2 separate regions of the Homo sapiens genome follow, and region 1 is linked to region 2. Evidence: fine-mapped expression QTL. A gene starts in region 2. The other region holds a variant in brackets. All regions are shown on one strand. Distances are between the middles of the regions. Region 1 overlaps FANCA (FA complementation group A). Region 2 holds the start of ZNF276 (zinc finger protein 276).

Region 1 (5,000 bases), 25 kb before region 2:
AGCAGTTCTTCCACTTGGTCAACTCTGAGATGGTAGGTGCCCCGTGTGCACGTGTCCGTCCGATCTGTCAGTGCCTGTGGCGCTAACAGCAGCTCTTGCAGCCTCCATGCGTGTACTGACCGTGTGAATTACTGAGGAAAGGGTTCAAAGTCAAATAGGGAACAGTGTCTGGAATGCCATGTGAGGGAGGACCCCACCCACAGCCAGGACGGCGACCAGCACATCACCAAACCAGCTGTAGGTTGCCTTCTCCCAAGTTTGAGTTCCTTTAGTTTCCCTCAAGTTTTAATGATTTTGACACATGGAATCGTACAGACCATTTTGTGTGCCACGCACCTCGGTTCATTTATTTCTAATCTCAACATGCTTCATGTGTAAAAAAAGCCTTGTGGTGATCTGACTACCGCTGTTGCCTGCCAGGCAGCCCAGTTATCTTCCATTTTAGACACTGCCCAGCGTGAGTTGCAGGGTGATCTTAACCAGCAGGCTGGGTGCGGTGGCTCACGCCCGTAATCCCAGCACTCTGGAAAGGTGGGGGATCACTTGAGCCCAGGAGTTCGAGACCAGCCTGGGCAACATGACAAAACCCTGTTTCTACAAAAAATAGAAAAATTAGCTGGGTATGGTGGTGCACGCCTGTACTCCCACCTACTTGAGAGGCTGGGTCAGGAGGAGTAATTGAGCCCAGGAGGCAGAGTTGCACTGAGCCAAGATCCCACCACTACACTCCAGCCTGGGTGACAGAGCGAAACTCTTGTCTCAAATAAAAAGAAGTGACACTCGCTGTGGGGACGGGCAGCGTAGGGACCCAGTTGGTCAGAGCTGGGGAGACGGATACCAGCCCCTCCCACTCTACAGAGAGCAGCTTCTGCTCCCGAAGGCCTTTTTCTTGTTTTTGAAGATGCACAAATGTGAGAGATGGAATTCAGGTTCCATGCCAGCTGTGCAGCATTTTATATTTTTATTTATTTATTTATTTATTTATTTTTTGAGACAGAGTCTTGCTCTGTCGCCCAGGCTGGAGTGCAGCAGTGAAATCTTGGCTCACCCTGCAACCTCCGCCTCCCAGGTTCAAGCGATTCTCCTGCCTCAGCCTCCTGAGTAGCTGGGACTACAGGTGCCTGCCGCCATGACCGGCTAAGTTTTGTATTTTTAGTAGAGATGACGTTTTACCATGTTGGTCAGTCTGGTCTTGAACTCCTGACCTCGTGATCCACCCGCCTTGGCCTCCCAAAGTGCTGGGATTACAGGTGTGAGCCCGGCCTTGTGCAGCACTTCAAAATGTGACAAGGAAAGCAGAGGACGTGAGACTAGCAAAAGCTTTCAGAAAATCACTATGGTCTCCTTTGAATTCTTATGAATGGCTGTTTTTCAGAAAGCTCTCAGTTGGCACGTGACAGCCGACAGACAGGAAAACACCATAGACAGCACTTGGTTAGTGAAGGGACCAGAGGATGGTTGGCCCTTGGTATTAGTGTCGTCCTCACCACAGTTCTACGCTCCGGGTGCGTCCCCTTCCCTGCGGCTGCTTGTGCCTCCCTGGCTTCTTCCTGGAGCCTACAAGACTGTTTGGGCCAGAGCTGGTGGGCTGCAGGATCTGGCCGCCCAGGGAAGCCGTTAAGTTTCAGGACAGCACAGCCAGGGCGCCAGGCCCGGTCAGCCCAGGAGCACCATCCATGGTGGCCACGCCAAGCCTTAGCGAGTGTTTTTCTCAAAACTGAATCCACAGCAGCCACTCTGCATGTTGGTCTCGCCTCTCTTCCTGTGGGCTTTTCTTACCTGCCTTGAACTCTTTTGCAGAGAAACTTCTGCTCCCACGGAGGTGCCCTGACACAGGACATCACTGCCCACTTCTTCAGGGTGAGATGCTCCCTCAGCCCCTCTCGTGGCCTTCTCAGAACGCCGTGGGTGGATCCTCCTGTCAGCTTCCTGTGAGTTCCTTCACTCTACTAGTTGTGGGTCCTCACAAACCGCTGACCTCCTGCTGCGTTCTCTCCTGCAGGGCCTCCTGAACGCCTGTCTGCGGAGCAGAGACCCCTCCCTGATGGTCGACTTCATACTGGCCAAGTGCCAGACGAAATGCCCCTTAATTTTGACCTCTGCTCTGGTGGGTCAGCTGTCTTGTTTGGTGTTTTGTTTTGGGGATGAGTGGGAGACTCCACAGCTGCCTCTGGCATCTCTGCAGCACGTCTCCATCACGGGTGTTACCATCTCAGGGAAAATGCATCAGGAGACATGGAAGCCA[CAG/G]TTAAAGATGCCAGCTCATAGCAGATGAGGGCCGCACATCCTGAGTTCCCAGAACCGTCCCTGCCCCCACCGCCGTCACCATGGCACCCGCAGGACTTCTCCCCTGTGGACCCCACTCAGACCCCACGGGCACCTTCATGTCCACAGGGGTGCAGGGCTTGTTTGTTCACGGTCTTGGGTTGTGCACTGGCTGGAGGCTGTACGGTGGCTGCCTGTGCCCCGTCACGAGAGCATGACTGTGGCCCACTTGCGCCTGACTATGCTTTCTTGGGACTTCGGAGCAGAGACTTCACCTCAGCTCCCGCCAGAGCTCAGCAGGCTCCCCTAGCAGCCCAGGGTCCCGAGAGTGGGAGGAGGGCAGCATTTCCCTCACTTCCCTGGCGGCTCACTTAGTCCTGAAGACCACAGCTGTCGCCCTTCCTTCTCGGTCATCAGGGACAGGAGGGCCTTTTTCTCCGCAGCACGGCATGTTCCCCAGGGAGCTCCCCAAGCAGGCTGCATTTGCACCGAGTTGTAGCTCAGTTGGTGGAATTCGTGAGAAATGAACTCTTCGGTGTTTAGAACGCCACCTCTCAGCTGAGGGCATCCAAGGACCAGGCATTCCCAGCTCAGGGCAGTGTGGTCTCTTCACTGTTTCGTTCCCAGCTCAGAGGAGTGTGGTCCCTTCACTGTTTCGTTCCCAGCTCAGGGCAGTGTGGTCCCTTCACTGTTTTGTTCCCAGCTCAGAGGAGTGTGGTCCCTTCACTGTTTTGTTCCCAGCTCAGGGCAGTGTGGTCCCTTCACTGTTTTGTTCCCAGCTCAGAGGAGTGTGGTCCCTTCACTGTTTCGTTCCCAGCTCAGGGCAGTGTGGTCCCTTCACTGTTTTGTTCCCAGCTCAGAGGAGTGTGGTCCCTTCACTGTTTCGTTCCCAGCTCAGGGCAGTGTGGTCCCTTCACTGTTTCGTTCCCAGCTCAGAGGAGTGTGGTCCCTTCACTGTTTTGTTCCCAGCTCAGAGGAGTGTGGTCCCTTCACTGTTTTGTTCCCAGCTCAGAGGAGTGTGGTCCCTTCACTGTTTCATTCCCAGCTCAGGGGACTGTGGTCCCTTCACTGTTTCGTTCCCAGCTCAGGGGAGTGTGGTCCCTTCACTGTTGCGTTAGGCCAGGCTCTTCCTTCTCCAAATTCCACGTCTTCCATGAGTGTGGGTAATAAATGCCTCATGGAACTGCTTTGAGCCTTAATTGACGTAAAAAATACTGGCTTTGGAGTTCCAGAGCGCAGGGCGAGTGTGGGCCTGTAGTGGCCTGTAGGAGCACTGGGGGCTTGTCATGGCTGGGGCAGCGGAGGTGTGTCCATCTCAGCCACCCTCATCTGTGTGCTGGTGCTCTCTCCATAGGTGTGGTGGCCGAGCCTGGAGCCTGTGCTGCTCTGCCGGTGGAGGAGACACTGCCAGAGCCCGCTGCCCCGGGAACTGCAGAAGCTACAAGAAGGCCGGCAGTTTGCCAGCGAGTACGTGTGGGTGGTGAGATGGGGTGTGCCCGCCCAGATGCACTTCGGGACCTGCTCAAGGTCATCTCCTAAACACCCTGGCTTGCTTGAGAGAAGCGGTGTGGGCAGCCTCTCGTGTGAGCAGGGAGAAAAGAACCGAGTTCTCGTGGTGGTGGGCGCCTGTAATCCCAACTACTGGGGAGGCCGAGGCAGGAGAATCAGTTGAACCCAGGAGGTGGAGTTTCCAGTGAGCCGAGATCACTCCAACGGCCAATAGAGCAAGACTCTGTCCAGAAAAAAAACAAAAAAAAAAACAGCCTCTGCCAGTGTCTCGTCTGAGTGAGGAACGGCCTCTCCCAGGCTCCCGTCTGAGTGAGGAGCTCGAGTGATTCCTTTGCACCTGCTCCCCTTCCTCTTAAATCTAATGTGGGCTCCTAGAGTGCACCGCGTGCTGGTAGGGTCAGTGTCATGGGGACCTCAGGGATGCAGATTCTCAGCCTACCCTGACCTGTCGACCCCAGTCAGATATTCACGGGTCCTTGCAAACCATCAAGCTCCTGGCGCAATCCAGGCTCACACACCCTTCTGAGGACCACAGAGCTGACAGCCACTCCACCTGCTGAATGTGGGTGCCGTGTTCTTAAGGGGTCGTCAGAGGGCACTGCTAGTACCCATCCTGCCTCCTTGGAGAACACCTTACTTTGTGACTAGTTTTGAATCACTGATGCCACACCGGGTCCCCTCAGGGTTTGGCTGCTCGCCGTCTGCTGAAAGAAGAGAAGAGGGCCCCGGCGCGGTGGCGCACACCTGTAATCCCAGCACTTTGGGAGGCCAAGGCAGGTGGATCACCTGAGGTCAGGAGTTTGAGACCAGCCTGGCCAACATGTGAAACAATCTCTACTGAAAATACAGAAATGAGCTGGGTGTGATAGTGTGCGCCTGTAGTCCCAGCTACTCAGGAGGCTGAGGCAGGAGAATTGCTTGAACCCAGGAGGTGGAGGTTGCAGTGAGCCGAGATCATGCCATTGTAGTCCAGCATGGGCAATGAGAGAGAAACTCCATCTCAAAAAAGGAGAAAGCAGGTCACACCTCCAGTTCTAATTCTACAAACACAGATCAGATTGTCTGAAGTTTTGTTTTTTGTTTTGTTTTGTTTGAGACAGAGTTTCACTCTTGTCACCCACCCTAGAGTGAGATGGCACGATCTCGGCTCACCATGACCTCCGCCTCCCAGGTTCAAGCGATCCTCCTGCCTCAGTCTCCTGAGTAGCTGGGATTACAGGCGTGAG
Region 2 (5,508 bases):
CCACACCAGGGTGTCACCAGGCGGCTGGCTGAGTGCCAGGAAATGACCTGCAGCTGGCCCAGGGCAGCAGCCGCAGAGGCAACGGCCATTCTTTTCTCCCACATCCACAGACAAGGCCCTATTCTTCCCTCTTCCTCAGTCCCCTCAGCCCCAAGCACAGGCTTAGAAAAAGACTCGACGGCTGATGAGCGTGTCTCCACAGAAACTGCTGGAACAGAGCCCTGCTCACAGAGGAGCAAGAGGCGGAGACAGGCTGGCCGCCCCTCCCTGCTCTCTGGATGTGGTGAGCAGCCGCAGGCAGAAGCCCCAAGCTCTGCTCCTTCTCACACCACACCCCAGCCACCACCTAGAGCAGTGGAGACATTCACTTTCTGCTGAAAACCCTGCCCCACTGAGGAGCACACATCCTGGTCTAGCACCAGCAAGAGGTGCCTCCTACCTGGGGCCCTGCAAAGGGGCAGGCTTGGCTGAGGTGGGAAGCCCGACCTGGGCCCCACCGCGTCGCTGTCCGAAGGAGGCTGGGCCACATCCGTGCTGGGCAGGGTCTTGGTCTCAGCCCCAACTGGGGTCCCTGTCCCTCTACCCTGGGAGGTCTGAGGGGCATCCCCAGGGTTCCACCCTCGGTGCTGGGGCAGCCGTGGCGCCGTCTCTTTGTCCCATGGCCACTTGACTGCCAGCGCACTGTCCAGCAAGAAGGCCTTGCAGCTGGAGCTGGTATCCATGGTGTAGTCGTGGCCCTGGTCGCAGCCCCACACGACCTGGATGACGCCGCAGTACTCGGAGGACAGTGTCCTCTGAAGGTGGGGCAGGGCCCCGCAGCTGGCCGCATGTCCATGCACCCACCCCACCAAGCCGTGCAGGCACTGGGGGCTGGATGTGATCAGATCCACTGCAGAGAGTCAACAGAGATGTCAGATCCACGGCTGGTCGGCACCCAGCCCACCCTCCACCGGGGGAGGACTCACCCAGACACGCTCCCTCCTCTGCCCCTGTTGGGGGCTGGGCACCGACCCTGCAAAGGATCAGTGTGGCCATGAGCAGGACAAGCAGGCGGAGGTTCACAGCGCTCGTCGTACGGGACCCTCTCGAGATCTCAAACCTCAGCGGTCCCCATAGGCAACTTTCTCTTCCCTCACCCCAGCTCCTCCCAGTTCATCTCTCCACAACAGTCCCAGGGCTGTTGGCACTGAACCCGGGCATGGCCCATTCCCCCCACCCAGAGGCTCCCGCGGAGGCACGCCCTGTCCCTCTCTCAACACCCGTCACACTGCAGTACTGACAGCCTGAACGTGCTCTGAACAGACTAGGGCGTACTTTGCACAAGGCTTCCGGCGACCAGCCGGGGAGGCGTTGACCCTCTGCAGGAAGGACTTGAGAAGGCTGTGGCACTGGTAGAACTGGGCGTGGCAGCTCTTGCAGACAAACGGAGACAAGGTGGGGTCCTGGCGGACAGCCACACCAAGCAGGCGCTGGAAGTCCCGTACGAGCACGCGCTCCTCTGCGGATGGCCTCTCCATGCTCGCTCCAGGCGCCCTCTCGGAGATGCTGCGCAGGCTTCTCGAGGAAAACTTCCCGTGGCAGAGGCGACAGTGACCCATGGCGAGAGCCCGGCCTGCTCCTGCACAGAGCGGCAGGAAGTGTTAGCAGCTGGCAAAGGAGGCTCCTGAGCACAGGGCGTCCCGGACTCCAGGTCCGAGGGCAGCGCCTGCAGCGCCCTTCGCGCGGCTCCCGGACACAGCAAGCGGCTCGGGCGCGCGGCTCTCGGCGGGACAAGCCGCCCTGTGGGGGATGTGGCCGCTGGTCCAAGAAATCTTTCAAATTTCAAAGGCCTCTAAGGCCTCTCCAGCGAAGCAACTTCAAGAGTGAAACCTGGAACTGCACCCTCCTCCCAGCGACCGCGAGACCCGGGGCAGGCGCTGCGCCCTCCAGGAAACGCCGCGGTTTCCTGTCTGCCAATTGCAGGTGCCGCCTCCTTTCCGGCTCCGCGAGGGCACGAAGCAGGGGAGGGCGATTCCCACGCGCGGGCACCCCAGGGCGACCTGCCCGCGGTGACAGCGCTCCTCACGCCGGGTCCCTTCTGGCCGAGCCCGCGGCCGGGGAGGCCGGGCCGGCGACGCCGGCGTCACGGAGCGCGAGGAAAACCGAGCCGGCCGCCCAGCGCCTATCCCGACGCAGCCCCGAGTCCGCTACGCCCTTGGCCGGGTGGAGGAGAGGCCGCGCCGGCTTCCGGGCGTCAGTGCGGCTCCTCCCACGAGCAACCCCTGCCGCGACCCCAACCCGCCACGCCCGGGCCGCGGACCCACCTGCCTCGTCCGCGCCGTCCTCGCCCGCGTCCCCGCAGGACCCCACCGGGCCCCAGGCGCGCCGCGCCGTCGCCCCGTCCACCCTCGGCCCACCGCTAAGGGAAGGGCGGCCCCGAGTCCGGCTGACGCCGCCGCCGCCGTCCGAGGCCCCGCACTGTCGGGACGACCCAGGAGACAGGAAGCGGCCCAGCCGGTCCCGCTTCATGGCAGCGGAGGACGCCAGCAGAATCCCGCGGGTGCTGCCCGGCCCGAGGTTCCTAGAGGACCCGGCGTTAGGCTCCGCTCGGCGCGCTGGAAGCGAGGCGGGGCGGGGGAGGGGCGGAGCGAGAAGCAAAGCGAGGCGGGCGGGGCGGGCCAGGGGCCAGGGGCGGGACCCCGCCGGCCGAGGTTCCACCCGCGGTGCCAGCGCCCCCGCTCGTACCGCTCCCCTCTCGGGCCCGAGGGCGGCCGTGCCCGCCTCTGTCGCCAATGGAGCGCTGGCCTGGGGCGGGGCGGTGGGCGGAGGGGCTCGCCGACACCTCACGACGAGTCCTCCAGGGAGAGGCGACGCGGCCCTCACCGCCTCTTACCGTGGGAGACGGAGGCGCGGGGCGGGCAGGCGCCGGCGGAGGCCACGCGGCGCGCAGGTGGCGGGCGGGCTGCAGAAAGGGGAGGGGGGCCGGGGTCTCACGTAGAGAGGGGCCTGGCTGCCGCGGTTAGACGCCCATGGCAACTCCGTGAGGGGCCCTTCTCGCCAGCCCCGTCTCAAGACGGCGAAGAGGCCCGGCTCCGTCGCGACAACCCACCCGGACTCTGCCGCCCCCGCCACTAACACCCGTGGGGCCCGCAGTACGCGCGGAGGGGGCCCGTCGCCGGAAGTGCGGCCGCGTCCCTTCCTGCGGTCCGCTGCTCGGGCGGCTCCAGCACCAGCGCCGGCTGCGTTCCGGGCCTCCGGTCGCCCGTCCAGCCCCTCGGCTACCGCCGCCGCCTCCCCCGCTCGGCGCCATGGCCGCTGCGGCCGGGGACGGCACGGTGAAGCCGCTGCAGAGCGCCATGAAGCTTGCCAACGGGGCCATCGAGCTGGACACCGGCAACCGGCCCCGGGTGAGGCGGGGCGGGGGCGGGGCTTGGCCGCTGAGGGTGGCCCCTGGAGGGACCCCCGCCCGGGGAGGGCGAGGACGGGGCCGGCTCGGGCTGGAGACTTGGGAGCGGGCGCCAGCCGGGATCCCGGGCCGCGGTTCCCGGGCGAGGACGGGGGCGGGGCGCAGCCGGGCGTGCAGTGACCTTGGACAGCTCAGATCCTGCGGACCTTGGCTTTCCACTCCGCTCGCTGAGCCGGTGCATCACAGCCTGGGCTCCACCTGTAGAGGAGATGTAGCAGGAGGGTCCGCCAGGCCACCTTCCAAAATCCGAGTGACGGGCAGGTCCGTGCGTTCGTGCATTTTTCTGGGCAGAGATGGTAGATTTAATCCGGTTGCCACAGGGGACGGCATGCAGAGAAGGCCACATACCTGCTCATTTGTGATGCTGTTTGCAGTCGTCTTAGGAAGGAAAAGCAGGCCGGAGGGGTGTGGCCCGTTCCTGAGATGGGGCCGAATCTAAGGTTGGCGACCAGGTAGAGAAGCTGGCCCAGCCACACCCGGCTGCCCAAGGAGGGAAGGAGCCTGCCTGTGCCTAGGAGAAGCCTCGTTCCTGAATCTGCTGCTTTCCCCAAGTTGGTTTTTAGGGCAGCAGGTGCCCCCGCAAGTCAGAAATCCTGCCTGGATTATATTTCGTCTTTCTCTCTGAGGCATAGACTTAAAGATAGGAAACTTAACAGCTAGGGATAAAACAAAAAAACATAGCATATTGCTGGGCGCTGTGGTTCACGCCTGTAATCCTGACACTTTGGGAGGCCCAGGCGGTGGATCACCTGAGGTGAGGAGTTTGAGACCAGCCTGGCCAACGTGGTGAAACCCCGTCTCTACTAAAAATACAAAAATTAGCTGGGTGTGGCGGTGCACACCTGTAATCCTAGCTCCTTGGGAGGCTGAGGGATGAGAATCACTTGAACCCAGGAGGCGGAGGTTGCAGTGACTCGAGATCCTGCCACTGCACTCCAGCCTGGGCGACAGAGTGAGACTCTGTCTCAACAAAACAAAACAAACCACCATTCTGTGGTTCCAATGACCTGTGCCTTGTCAGAGGGGTCACACAGCCTTGAAAGGTAACAGTTCTAGGCTCCTGTGTGCACTGGAAATACGTAACTCGCAGGTTCTGGGAAAGGGATTTCTCGGAACTTAAACCGGGAAGTGATTTGAAAACTTCCAGTATCACTCCCTTTATCCTCTCAGAAAAGTATTTTTTTAAGCCACTGAATGAATCACCCTTGAGTTGCACAAGAAGGAAACATTGCATAGAATGAAAAATGACAGCAAACTGCTGAGGTCACTTCCCCAGGCCCACTGAATGAGAATATCAGTTCCTGTGCTGGAGAGAAAGGCAGTCAGAGGAGAAAATGAGGTCCAGCTCGTCCCTGGCTCTCTCTCTCTCTCAGGTCCTGATGTCTTTTCCAAGTCTGGAGAGCAGCGATGCTGCCTGTGCCCTGCGCAGAAAACCGTGTTCCGGCTGCAGCTAACCACCGCAGGCTCAATGTCTCTGGGTGTATCTCAGAGATAAGCAGGTGGTGGTGTTCCTTGCTTATCCCACAAGGGCACCTGGCCGGAATAATGGAGTCACTTCCCTCCACTGGCCTGACCCCACTCTTTCTCTTTCCTGGACACAGGAGGCATACACGGAATACCTGAGGAGCATCCACTATATCTCCCAGGTGTTACTAGAAGAAGTGGAAACCACTAAAGGTACGGCTCAGCCAGCCGGGCGCGGTGGCTCACGCCTGTAATCCCAGCACTGTGGGAGGCAGAGGCGGGCTATCACCTGAGGTCAGGAGATCGAAACCATCCTGGCTAACATGGTGAAACCCCGTCTCTACTAAAAATCTAAAAAATCAGCTGGGCCTGGTGGCGGGTGTCTGTAGTCCCAGCTACTCGGGAGGCTGAGGCAGGAGAATTGCTTGAACCCGGGAGCAGAGGTTGCAGTGAGCCGAGATCACCCCATTGTACTCCAGCCTGGAACAAGAGCGAAACTCCGTCTCAAAAAAAAAAAAAAGAAAAGAAAAAGAAAAAGGCATGGCTGAGCCCTGCTGCTTCCTCCATGCTGGACAAATTGTGGGCATCCTAGCCCTTGA

The links. PIP is the estimated chance that this variant, and not a neighbour inherited with it, causes the effect. A credible set is the group of variants that fine-mapping cannot tell apart.
Region 1: its variant is the best candidate, but not a certain one, in a credible set for the expression of ZNF276 in visceral fat (GTEx, PIP 0.61).

The regions. Positions count from the first base shown.
Region 1 is chr16:89,743,691-89,748,690 of GRCh38, reverse strand. FANCA (FA complementation group A) reads left to right here. Exons shown (of 43, transcript NM_000135.4): 33 at 1-32; 34 at 1,801-1,860; 35 at 2,003-2,107; 36 at 3,620-3,732. Among named protein-coding and RNA genes, the nearest start is that of ZNF276, 25 kb to the right of the region's middle. RefSeq lists enhancers at 1,821-1,990, 4,387-4,556. The variant CAG/G (reference allele first, on the strand shown) is at 2,246.
Region 2 is chr16:89,718,641-89,724,148 of GRCh38, reverse strand. ZNF276 (zinc finger protein 276) reads right to left here and starts at 2,612. Exons shown (of 11, transcript NM_001113525.2): 1 at 2,304-2,612; 2 at 1,315-1,618; 3 at 966-1,012; 4 at 440-889. The coding sequence starts at 2,508. It overlaps VPS9D1 (VPS9 domain containing 1), which reads left to right and starts at 3,251. Exons shown (of 15, transcript NM_004913.3): 1 at 3,251-3,386; 2 at 5,047-5,122. The coding sequence starts at 3,288. RefSeq lists silencers at 1,985-2,444, 2,525-3,644, a cis regulatory region at 4,954 and an enhancer at 4,870-5,039.